2 separate regions of the Homo sapiens genome follow, and region 2 is linked to region 1. The links come from fine-mapping of genetic effects on gene expression. A gene starts in region 1. The other region holds a variant in brackets. All regions are shown on one strand. Distances are from middle to middle.

Region 1 (5,368 bases):
TGGGGCAGCCACCTTTTCTGGACTTCCCCATCAAGGCTTTGACCTCTCTGCCTATGATTGCCCCATCACAACCCTCCTCTTTCTGGGTTTGTTCCCTGCTGGACTGTGAATGGTGTGGATGCAGGCCTGAGCTGTCCCAGTCACACTGTGTCCCCAGCACCATCCAGCCTGGGACTGGACAGAAGACCAGGTGCTCACTGAATGTTTGCTGATGGTGAATGAAGACCCGCTCCATTTCTCACCTCTGGTCCTTTGCCCACATTTGTCCCTCTGCCTGGAACCCCCTTCCCTCCTTTTTTCCTTAGCTCCCTCCTCCTCAATCTTCCATTTTGACTTCCTTTTATTATTTATTATTATTTTCTTTTTGAGACAGAGTCTCGCTCTGTCACCCAGGCTGGAGTGCAATGGCGCAATCTTGCCTCACTGTAACCTCTGCCTCCTGGGTTTAAGCAATTCTCCTGCTCAGCCTCCCGAGTAGCTGGGATCACAGGTGCCCGCCACCACGCCTGGCTAATTCAGTTTGACTGCCGATATCACCTCCTGCAGGATCCTTTCCTGAGTTTGCCGCCTCCTCCCTGGGGTGGAGTTAGATCTGTTGATGTCCCCTGTGCCCAGCAAAAGACCTACCACTAAACAGGGCTTGTGAGTGTTTGTTGAATGAATATAGGAACAAAAGAATGTTTGCGTGAATCAATGAAGGAGAGAGACTGCAATGAAGTGAGGGTCTCCTCAGGCCCATCGGGAGCCCCGACCATACCATCCCTTCTACCCCTCCTGGGAGGAGGGCTCTGGCTGGCTTCTGGCCACACCCCAATGCTTGGTTGCTGCCAGGCCTGGAAGGCATTTCCCAGAGCTCAGCACATTCCTGCCTTCCCCGGTGGCTGAGAGTGGGCAGGGGGCATTTCAGAGAGAAGGGAGGGAGGCCCCCAGCATTCCGGGATCCTGCCATCCTGGCCTGGTCCCCCACGCCCTCTGAAGTAGGCCCCAACCCTCTGGTGTGAGATGGGGGACAGGTCTGCAGAGGGGCCACCCAGGCTGGTGTGAGGGGCGAGGGTGCCGACAGAGGCCAGGGCTTGGTGTCTGTGCCTGGCTGGACAATGGGGCAGAAGCTGCTGACATGCGCTTTGGGGGTAATCCCCCAGCCTCAGCCCAGCCCAGGCCTGGGGCCTGGGTTCAGAGAGCGACGAGCTTCCGAGGCAGCAGCCGGGTGGGTTCAAGTGGCATGTGGGGGTACCTGTGCTCCCTGTGCCGCCCCCCGGGGTCTGGTGAGTCAGGGCAGGCTGGGGGCTGGACCAGGGTCCAGGGGTTGGGGGTGAGGCCTGGTAGCTTTGGCTTGGGAGTCGGGCAGGTCTGGGTTCAACTCTGGACCCCTGCCAATGACCTGCTATGGTGATATTGGGAGAGTCACTTACCTTCTCTGAGCCTTCTGGTCTGCAAAGTGGAAGGGGCAGAAGAGTGTAGCAGGGTTTTTGTGGTCCAGGAGAACAGGGGTTGGACCTCAGCTTCACCACCTCCTGGCCACATAGCTATAAATTGGGCATAGCTGGACGCGGTGGCTCACGCCTGTAATCCCAGAACTTTGGGAGGCCGAAGTGGGAAGATCGCTTGAGCCCAGGAGTTCGAGACCAGCCTGGGCAACATGGTGAAACTTTGCCATTACAAAAAATACAAAAATTAGCTGGGCATGATGATGCATACCTGTGGTCCCAGCTATTTGAGGGGGCTCAGTCGGGAGGATTGCTTGAGCCCAGGAGGTGGAGGCTGCAGTGAGCCATGATCACACCACTGCACTCCAGCCTGGGCAACAGAGTGAGACCTTGTCTCAAAAAAAAGGGTGGGGAGCATAAGGAGCCCATTTTACACCCTTGATTCAAAAGCAGGGCTTCAGCACTGAGCATGGTACTTAGTATGTGATAGGTGTCCCCCTAAACAGTAACTCCATTAGACAGAGAACTGGGGGTCCCCTGTGCCCAGCCTTACTGAAAAGGGGCCAAAACCCCCCAGCAAGATGAGCCAGCCACCTAATTTGTGTGAAAAATAATACCAAATACTTATTAGTAACCCTCATTATGTGCCCGGCATTGTCTTACATTTTCAGTCTCTTTTAACTCGTTTAATCTTCACCACAGCCCCATAAGGTGGGTACTCTTACTATCCGCAAAGAGAAGCTGTGACTGGCAGCAGGTCACCCAGCGAGGAAGTGGTCGCGCTGCGATTTGAACCCAAGTTGACAGGGAGAGGGAGTGAAAGGAGTTTACAGTAGAGGCAGTTGGCCAGGCCCGGGTCCTGGAGCCAGGAAACAGTGGGGCTGGGGTGGGGTCCTGATTCTCCAAGTCGAGGAAGCCAACGTGCAAATCCTTGAAGCTGAGCTCATGGCAGAGATCTCGGCCCAGGCAAGAGAGAGGCGGCTGGTGGCTGTCCCGTGGCCCCCACCCCTTGGGGATAGATGTAGCTGGAGGAGGGGGATGTTTGTTTCTCCACCACCCACCCTCTGGTGACGTCACACCCCCGCAGCCAATGGCTGGGGTCTCTCTCTCCTCCCCCCTCCCCATTCCTTTTCCCCCCCAGCCTAGGGCTAGGGCTGACAGACGGGACCAGGAGCTCTCGAGGTGTCTGGAGGCTCAGCGGTAAGAGATCAGCCGGCCGGTCCCTTCCCTGGCCAGGCTGAGACACTGTGGGAATGAGGTTCAGGGTCCCGGGAGGTGCTGGGAGGGGGCCTGGGGGCTCAGGAAGCCGTGTGGTGTAGGTGTTAAAGGTATAGACTTTGGAGCTGGTGGTTCAAATCCCCTTTCCTCTCCTTTCTGGCTGTGCAGCCTTGGGCAAGATACTTCATCCTTTGTGCCTCTGTTTCCCCATCTCTAAAATGGGCTGATGTCTGGAGGCCACCTCACAGGGCTGGTGCCGAGTAAATGAGTTGCTGCTTTTAAAGAGCTAGGGCAGCCAGGCATGGTGGCTCATGCCTATAATCCCAGCACTTTGGGAGGCTGAGGCGGCAGGACTGCTTAAGCCCAGGAGTTCGAGACCAGCCTGGGCCACATAGAGAGGCCCCCATCTCTACAAAACAAAAAAAAATTTTTTTTAATTAGCTGGGCATGGTGGTGCATGCCTGTGGTTCCAGCTACTCTGGAGGCTGAGATGGGAGATTGGGTTGGGCCCAGGAGGTTGGGGCTGCAGTGAGCCGTGATCACACCTCTGCACTCCAGTCTCAGTGACAGAGGGAGACCCTGTCTCCAAAAAACAAACTAACAAACACCAGAGCTGGGGCAGGAGGCCTGGGGTGGGTCCCTGGAGTAGGGTGCTAGGGAGGCAGCATGGATCCTGTTGGGAGGCTGGTGCCTGAGCTGGGTTTTGTCTCTCAGCCAAAGCTCCCCTTTGGTAGCAGAGAAAGTGGGGGCCACTGAGGAGCAAAGGTTGGATGTGCAACACTGTGAGAAGCACAGCTCCCTCCCTCCATACTCTCCCTGTTGCTGTCAGAGACGAGTTTATATTAATCAAGCATTTACTATACAGGAGGGATATTCTAAGCACCTGCTGTTCTCTCACAAATCTTCAAAGCCTTTCTTATTGGCTCCATTTTACAGATGGAGAAACTGAGGCCCCAGAGATGAAGGATCTTGCCCAAGTCCTCACACCTGGGAAGTGCTGGAGCAGGGACTAACCGAGGCAGCCAGAGGCCACTGCCTTAACTCCCCCTGACCCCCTAGGTGGCCTCAGATAATGTTTAGAGGTCTGGATGAGTCAGCCCAACCCCTGACCCCCATTGCTATGAGAGATCACGCTGGTGGCGGGGGAAAGCTGAGGCTCTGAGCAGGCAGGGTTCCCAAGTGAAGTTGGTGGCAGTCACCAGGGAAAGAGGGCCAGAAGGGCAATGCCCTCAGCCGATCCCTCAGCAGCCTCCGAATGACAACCCCTCGCTCCCAGCTGCTCTGAAGGGCATAAGTCGCATCTGAAATGGATATCTCAGTTGTACCCACTCCAGGGAGATGTTACAAAGATTTAAGGAGCCAAGACAGGAAGGATCTTAGCACACAGTAGGTGCTCAAGAAATGGGGACCCTGGGGATTCTGAAAGTTCTGGCATATGCCAGGGTCATGCCACAGTAACTACCCAAGAAATAGGCTGCTGGCATCTGGAGTGTCTGCCTGGTCCCAGTGGATCTGCCTCTAACACAAGGCAGGGACCCTCCCCAGGAGCCTCCCCACCCCTCTTTCCCCTGCCTAGTGGGATAGGCAGAGCTGGGAACACAGAGTCCTCTCTGTGGGTTTCCTTCCGAAGCTGCCCCCACCTTACCCCAGGGGCTGGGTACGTGGCTCAGGAAGAGCACAGTTGGGCTAAATATAACCTGGGCTGGGTGCCTGTCCAGGCAGGGACGAAGAAGGAGGGCACTCTCTCTTGTCCCTGCCCCGCCTGAACTTCCTGTGCCAGGCTCCGGGCATGACCCTCACAGCCACGGGCCTGGGACAGAGAGCTGATGACCCAGGAGACCCCCTCTACTACCACCTACAAGGTTCAGGCTTCTCGTGTCCCCAGCTCAGGACTCTGTGCTGTGTATCAGTCCTGGGTAAGGGAACTGAGTTCGCTTTCACACCTGGGCTCAAGTCTCGACTCTGTCACTGTGATCACCGGTCTCTTAACTCTCATTGACTCATCAGTTAAATGGGGTCCCACAAGGTCAAGTATGTAAAGCGCCTGCCCGGTCCAGGCCCGGCACCTGGCCTGGGTGTGTTTCTAGCACCGTTGGCCCCCTCCTGCCCAACCCAGCTCCTGCCCCAGTGCGCAGAGCCACCAATGCAAATTAAGGTGAAGCAGGGGTGAAGGGCAGGCACGGGTCCTAGCTCTGCCCCTTTCTGGCTGGGTGACCCCTCTGTGAGCCTCAGTTTCCACCCCATAACAGCCACAACATCTAGGGTGATTTTGAGGCCTGTGGGTGCTAGCACAGGGCCCAATTCAGAGGAAATGCCCCAGACATGGCAGACAAGGTCTTAGTGCAGGGACCAGCTAATATTAATACTAACCACTCAATACCCATCAGTTGTTATTATGATTGTCCAGCTAAAGCGCTGGAGCTTTTTTTATTTTTATTTTTATTTTTTTGAGATGGAGTCTCGCTCTATCGCACAGGCTGGAGTGCAGTGGTGCATTCTCAGCTCACCACAACCTCCGCTTCCCAGGCTGAAGCGATTCTCCTGCCTCAGCCTCCCGAGTAGCTGGGATTACAGGCGCGCGCTGCCACGCCTGGCTAATTTTAGTATTTTTAGTAGAAACGGGGTTTCACCATATTGGCCAGACTGGTCTCGAACCCCTGACCTCGTGATCCACCCACCTCGGCCTCCTAAAGTGTTGGGATTACAGGCCTAAGCCACGCGCC
Region 2 (5,368 bases), 43 kb after region 1:
CCCAATGAGTCACACTTCCCTACGTCCACGCCTTAGGGTTGTGCCTTCCACGATGACTCTGGGCTTGGACAGGTAACTTGCTCAGGGGGACCTAGGGAGACCTGGGTTGCCTGCCTCAACTAGTGAAACTATCAAGAGCTAGAAACATCAGTGCCTTGTCCAGAGTGATCAGTATCTGCCATGGCGAGAGCCAGTGTTGTCCAACAGAGCCTGTCACAGTGATGGAAATGTCCAATATGGTGGTCACTTGCTACAGGTGCTACTGAGCATATGAAATGTGGCTACTGCATGAGGAACTGAATTTTTTCTTTTTTTGGAGACAGGGCAACAGCCTCTTGCCCAGGCTGGAGTGCAGTGGTACAATCAGCTCACGCAGCCTCAAACTCCTGGGCTCAAGTGATCCCCCTGTCTTAGCCTCCCCAGGGACTACAGGTGCACACAACCACACCCGGCTAATTTTAATTAATATTATGTTTTTGTAGAAATGGTGTCTCCCTAGTTCTTGGGTATCCTATCTAGAACAATAAATAATAAGACCAAAAAAAAAAAAAAAATAGAAAGAAATGATGTCTCCCTATGTTGCCCAGGCTGGTCATGAACTCCTGGCCTCAAGTGATCCTCCCATCTTGGCCTTGGCCTCCCAAAGTGCTGGGATTACAGGGATGAGAAACCATGCCTGGCTTGAAACAATTTTTTTTTGAAACAGGCTGTCACCCAGGCTGGAGTACAGTGGTGTGATCATGGCTCACTGCAGCCTAGATTTCCTGGGCTCAAGTGATCCCCCTGCCTCAGCCTCCTGCGTAGCTGTGACTACATGCATGCACAACCCAACCCAGCTAGTTTTGTTTGTTTGTTTGTTTGTTTGTAAAGATGGAGTCTTGCTATGTTGTCCAGGCTGGTCTCAAACTCCTGGCCTCAAGTGATCCTGTCACCTCAACCTCCCAAAGTATTGGGATTACAGGCATAAGCCACCCCACTTGGCCTGAATTGTTAATTGCATTTAATTAACTTAAACTGAAAGAGCCACCTGTGGCTATACTGGATGATATAGAGCACCAAAGGTTTGGTGTGCATGAACCCAGGGTACCTCTCCCAGCAGCCCTAACAGGTTGGAAACAATACCCATTTTCTAACTGAAATAGAGGCCGAGGGATGTTGGGAACTACTCCAGGCCCCTGACCAAGCAGAATGAGCTGGGGTGAGAACTGATGGTCAGGATACGCCCTCCCTGTCATCACCAAACAGGGACAGATGGAGGCTGTGAGTGACGGCATGGGGCTGGGACATGACAGGCCCCACTTGCCCCAGACTCACCGCCAGGTAGGCCAGAGCAGGGGTTCCATTGAGGCAGATCTCCATTGGTGTCTCTTGGTTGTAGCGGGTGTCATAGAACCGGGGCCAAGTTGATGGGATGGAGCTGCCTGCCTGGCCCAGGAACCAGTAGGCCTCAAAGATCTTGGTCAGGTCTCGAGCCAGGCAGCTGCAGTTGTACATGACCACGCCCAGCTCCTTGACCTGTAGGAGGGCAGTGCTGAGCTCAGCGATAGCGGCCTAGTGCTCACAGATGACAGGGACACTCCCCAGTCTGGTCTCTGTCTTTCCCCCTGTCCCACAGTACCCCCTCCACCCCAGCTCCAATAGCTAAAGTCCTAGAATGATTATCAACTTAAGTTTTGATGAAAATCAGTTATTCCAAAGCTCCAGGTTTCCTGAACGTTTGCAATCTGCTGTTGCTTCTACCCTCCACTGAGCTAGCTTCTACTCATTCTTAGGTCTAGGCTGACATGTTGCCTCCTTCAGGAAGCCTCCCATGACTACCCAGCCTGCACCAGGCATTCCTCTGGGCTCTCACAGTCCCTTGGGATTCCCTCCTCATTCTTTCTGGTGACAAACTGGTCTTCCCATTGGGCTGGGAGGACAGGCACTAGGGATGTCTCAGTCACAGCTATATCTACAGCATCTCCCTGCATAATTGCTGAGATTAAAGGTTAGGGGAACTATCTGTTGAGGAAATGAATTCATGAGTTATTGTCCTGTCTTATCTTCACCTCATTGCCCAAGCTGTTTCCTGTTCCATCTTGCGCTAATTCCTCCCTATCCTTCAGGGATCAGATTAGTTATACCTCCTTTGGGAAACCCTCCAATGCCCCAGGTTGGGGTCTCTGAGCTTCCACAGCCCTCTGTTCCCTCCATCCTGGCCCTGACCCTCTGCCTGTGTCTCCCCAACCCC[G/A]GCCCTGACCCCTCTGGGCTGTCACTGTCAGGTGACAGGCCAGTCTGCATTGGGCTGGGAGTTCCATGAGGTCCATCTGTTACCACCATGTTCCCAACATTACCCAGGATAGGGCTGGACTTAGAGCAGGCACACAGAGATGTACAATGAAGATCAAATGGGTGCGCAGGTTCTTGAATGCCATGTAGAGGGGCTGGTAGCTGCAATTGGGGATCAGAGGGAGCCCCAGGCTTCCAGGAGCAGGGGGAGGGCAGTAGAGGGCTCCATTTAGGGATTCTTTGTTTTGTAACAGGGTCTCACTCTGTCACTCAGGCTGGAGTGCAGTGGCATGAATACAACCCACTGTAGCCTCAAACTCCTGGGCTCAAGTGATCCTCCCACCTCAGTCTCCCAAGGAGCTGGGACCAGAGGTGTGTGCCACCACACCGGGCTTATTTTTTTTTTTTTGGTAGAGATGGGGTCTCACTATGTTGCCCAGGCTGGTCTCCAACTCCTGGGCTCAAGCAATCCTCCCACCTTGGCCTCCCAAAGTGTTGAGATTATAGGTGTGAGCCACCGTGCATGGCTTGGATTAGGGAGGCCTGGTAGGAGGCAAGAAGGAAGCCATTACAGAGAATGGGTGGAGAGGACTCTGGATTGAGTGAGGGATGCAGTCGGAGGCTGGGTGCCCTGTGGGGCAGGGAGTGGCCTGGAAGGAAGGTAGACAGGGTGCAGACAGACCTGGGTCAGTGAACGCCAGTCCATGTTGGCACTGCCCAGGTAGAAGTGGGTCTGGTCCACCACCCAGAACTTGGTATGCAGGACGCCATGGGTCAGCTTCTGCATGTCCACCATGCGGACCTGGGCACCTGTGACCAGCAGGGGCAGAGATCAGGGGCCAGGCTGGGTACCCCCAGGCCCAGACCAGCCCCAGTTGGGCCCCAGCTCACCGCTCTGCAGCAGAGCCTGCAGGTCCGCCTGTGGCTGGGGCCCGCTGGGCTTGCTCACAGCGATGCGGACGTTCACGCCCTTTGGTGCCAGGGTCTGCAGCTGCCGGAGGACCTCCTCACCCTGCGGGGAGGGGAGAGCTTCTGAGGGGCTGGACCAGCCAGCTCTCCAACCCCACAAGGTAATGCCCGGTGGAGTTATTTTGAGACATGATTAGGAGTAAACAGACTTTACATTAGCCTGCATAGATTAAAGACTTTACAGATTAAAATATTAAAAGACTTCCTTATCTGTTTTAAACATCTTTATCTGCTTTAATAATTAGTTGCCCTGTGATCCCCCTCCAAGTCCTCCTGACCCCTCCTGCCCCTCCAGGGACTTTCTCAAAATTCAGCATCAAGGCAGGGCCTCCAGGCATCTCCCAGTATGGTGGGGGCGAGGCTCAGGCAGGGGGTCCTGGAAGGTATCGGGTGAGGCACGATGATGCCAACAACAGCAACAGTCAAGGATGCCCTGGAACCTACTGTGTGCCAGGCCCTGTTCTAGGCCTCTTCTCAGCGAACTCACTGAATTCTCACAACCCAGTGAGGCTGGTTTAATTATAATCCCCACAGAGAACTCAGTAGTGGAGTGGGATTTTGTTTTTGTTTTTTTGTTTGTTTGTTTGTTGAGACAGGGACTTGCTATGTTGCCCAGGCTGATCTTCAATCCCTGGGCTCAAGCATTCCGCCTGCCTCAGTCTCCCAAGTAGCTAGTACCTCAGGAGTGCACCACCACATCCAGCTATGGAGCAGGATTTGAACCCAGACCATCTGCCTCCTACATCTGTGTTTTAAACCACTTTAGAGGGAGCCAGCAGGGAGTGGGAGCTCATACGGTTTTTTAACATAAAAAAATTTTTTTTTAGAGACAGGGTTTCACTATGTTGCCCAGGCTAGAGTGCAGTGGCATGATCACAGCTCACTGCAGCCTCCAATTCCTAGGCTCAAGTCATTCTCCTGCTTCAGCCTCCCAAGTAGCTGGGACCACAGGTGTGTACCACTATGCCTGGCTTTGGTTTTTAACTTTTGTAATTATTATTATTACTTTTTCTTTTTCTTTTTTTTGAGACAGGGTCTTGCTATGTTGCCTGGGCTGGAGTGTAGTGGCATGATCACGGCTCGCTGCAGCCTCCAACTCCTGGGCTCAAGCCATCCTCCTCCTTCCATCTCCTGAGTATCTGAGACTGCAGGCATGCACCACAACACCCTCCTAATTTTTTTTTATTTTTAGTAGAGATGGTTGAGGGGAGGTGGGGGGCGGGTCTCACTATGTTGCTCAGGCTAGTCTCGAACTCTTGGGCTCCAGTGATCCTCCTGTCTAGGCCTCCCAAAGTGCTGGGATTACAGGTGTGAATCACCACACTTGGCCATAATTATTTTTTTCAGGCAGTTCTTAAGGAGCCTTGTAATTTTAGTTAAGTTTTAAGACAACTTCTCACAAAAAGAGCCAGTAGGGAGAAGAAAACAGAAGGAACAAATTCATGGTTTTTCAATGGAAGAGGTTATCCATGTAGGCTGTTCCTTTTCAAATTGTGAAGCTTTTATGTTCTTTAAGTTTGTCTGCAGACCATACCAGGATATATAGTAACAGCAGACTCACAAAGGCTGACTCTGTGCCAGGCACTGTGCTAAAATTTGCATGGATTAGTCCATTTCATCCTCACAAGAGCCCTAAGAAGCAGGTGCTATAAATTGGCCCCATTTTACAGATAAAGAAACTGAAGCTGGAGAGAAGAGGTGGCCTGCCTGGGGTCACACAGCTGGGAGGTGGCCCCTGTCTTGAGGCTGGGCTGTTAATTACTCCACTCTTCCCTTTCTTTGTGTGACTGGGTCAGGACAGCTTGTGGGTGAGTGACATCTGCCAGCCTAATAATCCCTTGTAACCAAACCCGCACCCTGACATTCAGAGGCCTACAGATGACCGTGACAAACGCCCCCAGTCCAGAGAGCCACGTGACGACAGCTGCTTGCAAACACCTGTGTCCAATCTGCTGTGTGAGACACACCCCTCTGTCTCCTGGGCTGCAGGAGAAACCCCTTCATTCCCCACAGCCCCCGCTGCCTCCCACCCCCTGCCCCTGCTGCCGGCCAGGGCCAAGGTTGCAGGTACCTGCTGGGCAGAGGGCTCCTGCGTGTGGGTGTCATTGTTGGTGAGGGTCCAGTAGAAGGA

Direction of the effects. Alleles are on the strand shown, and positions count from the first base shown. SD is a standard deviation of normalised expression in the study named.
For the expression in Th2 cells of the gene that starts at base 2,587 in region 1, allele A in region 2 goes with a higher level than allele G (large effect, 1.5 SD a copy in Schmiedel 2018).

The links. PIP is the estimated chance that this variant, and not a neighbour inherited with it, causes the effect.
Region 2: its variant is the best candidate, but not a certain one, in a credible set for the expression of PRX in Th2 cells (Schmiedel 2018, PIP 0.51).

Annotation. Positions count from the first base shown.
Region 1 is chr19:40,410,597-40,415,964 of GRCh38, reverse strand. PRX (periaxin) reads left to right here and starts at 2,587. Exons shown (of 7, transcript NM_181882.3): 1 at 2,587-2,627. RefSeq lists enhancers at 1,129-1,777, 5,294-5,368.
Region 2 is chr19:40,367,820-40,373,187 of GRCh38, reverse strand. It overlaps PLD3 (phospholipase D family member 3), which reads right to left. Exons shown (of 13, transcript NM_012268.4): 6 at 5,309-5,368; 7 at 3,160-3,280; 8 at 2,951-3,078; 9 at 1,315-1,515. It overlaps MIR6796 (microRNA 6796), which reads right to left and starts at 3,342; the gene lies at 3,281-3,342. RefSeq lists an enhancer at 1,112-1,406 and a silencer at 5,077-5,242. The variant G/A (reference allele first, on the strand shown) is at 2,231.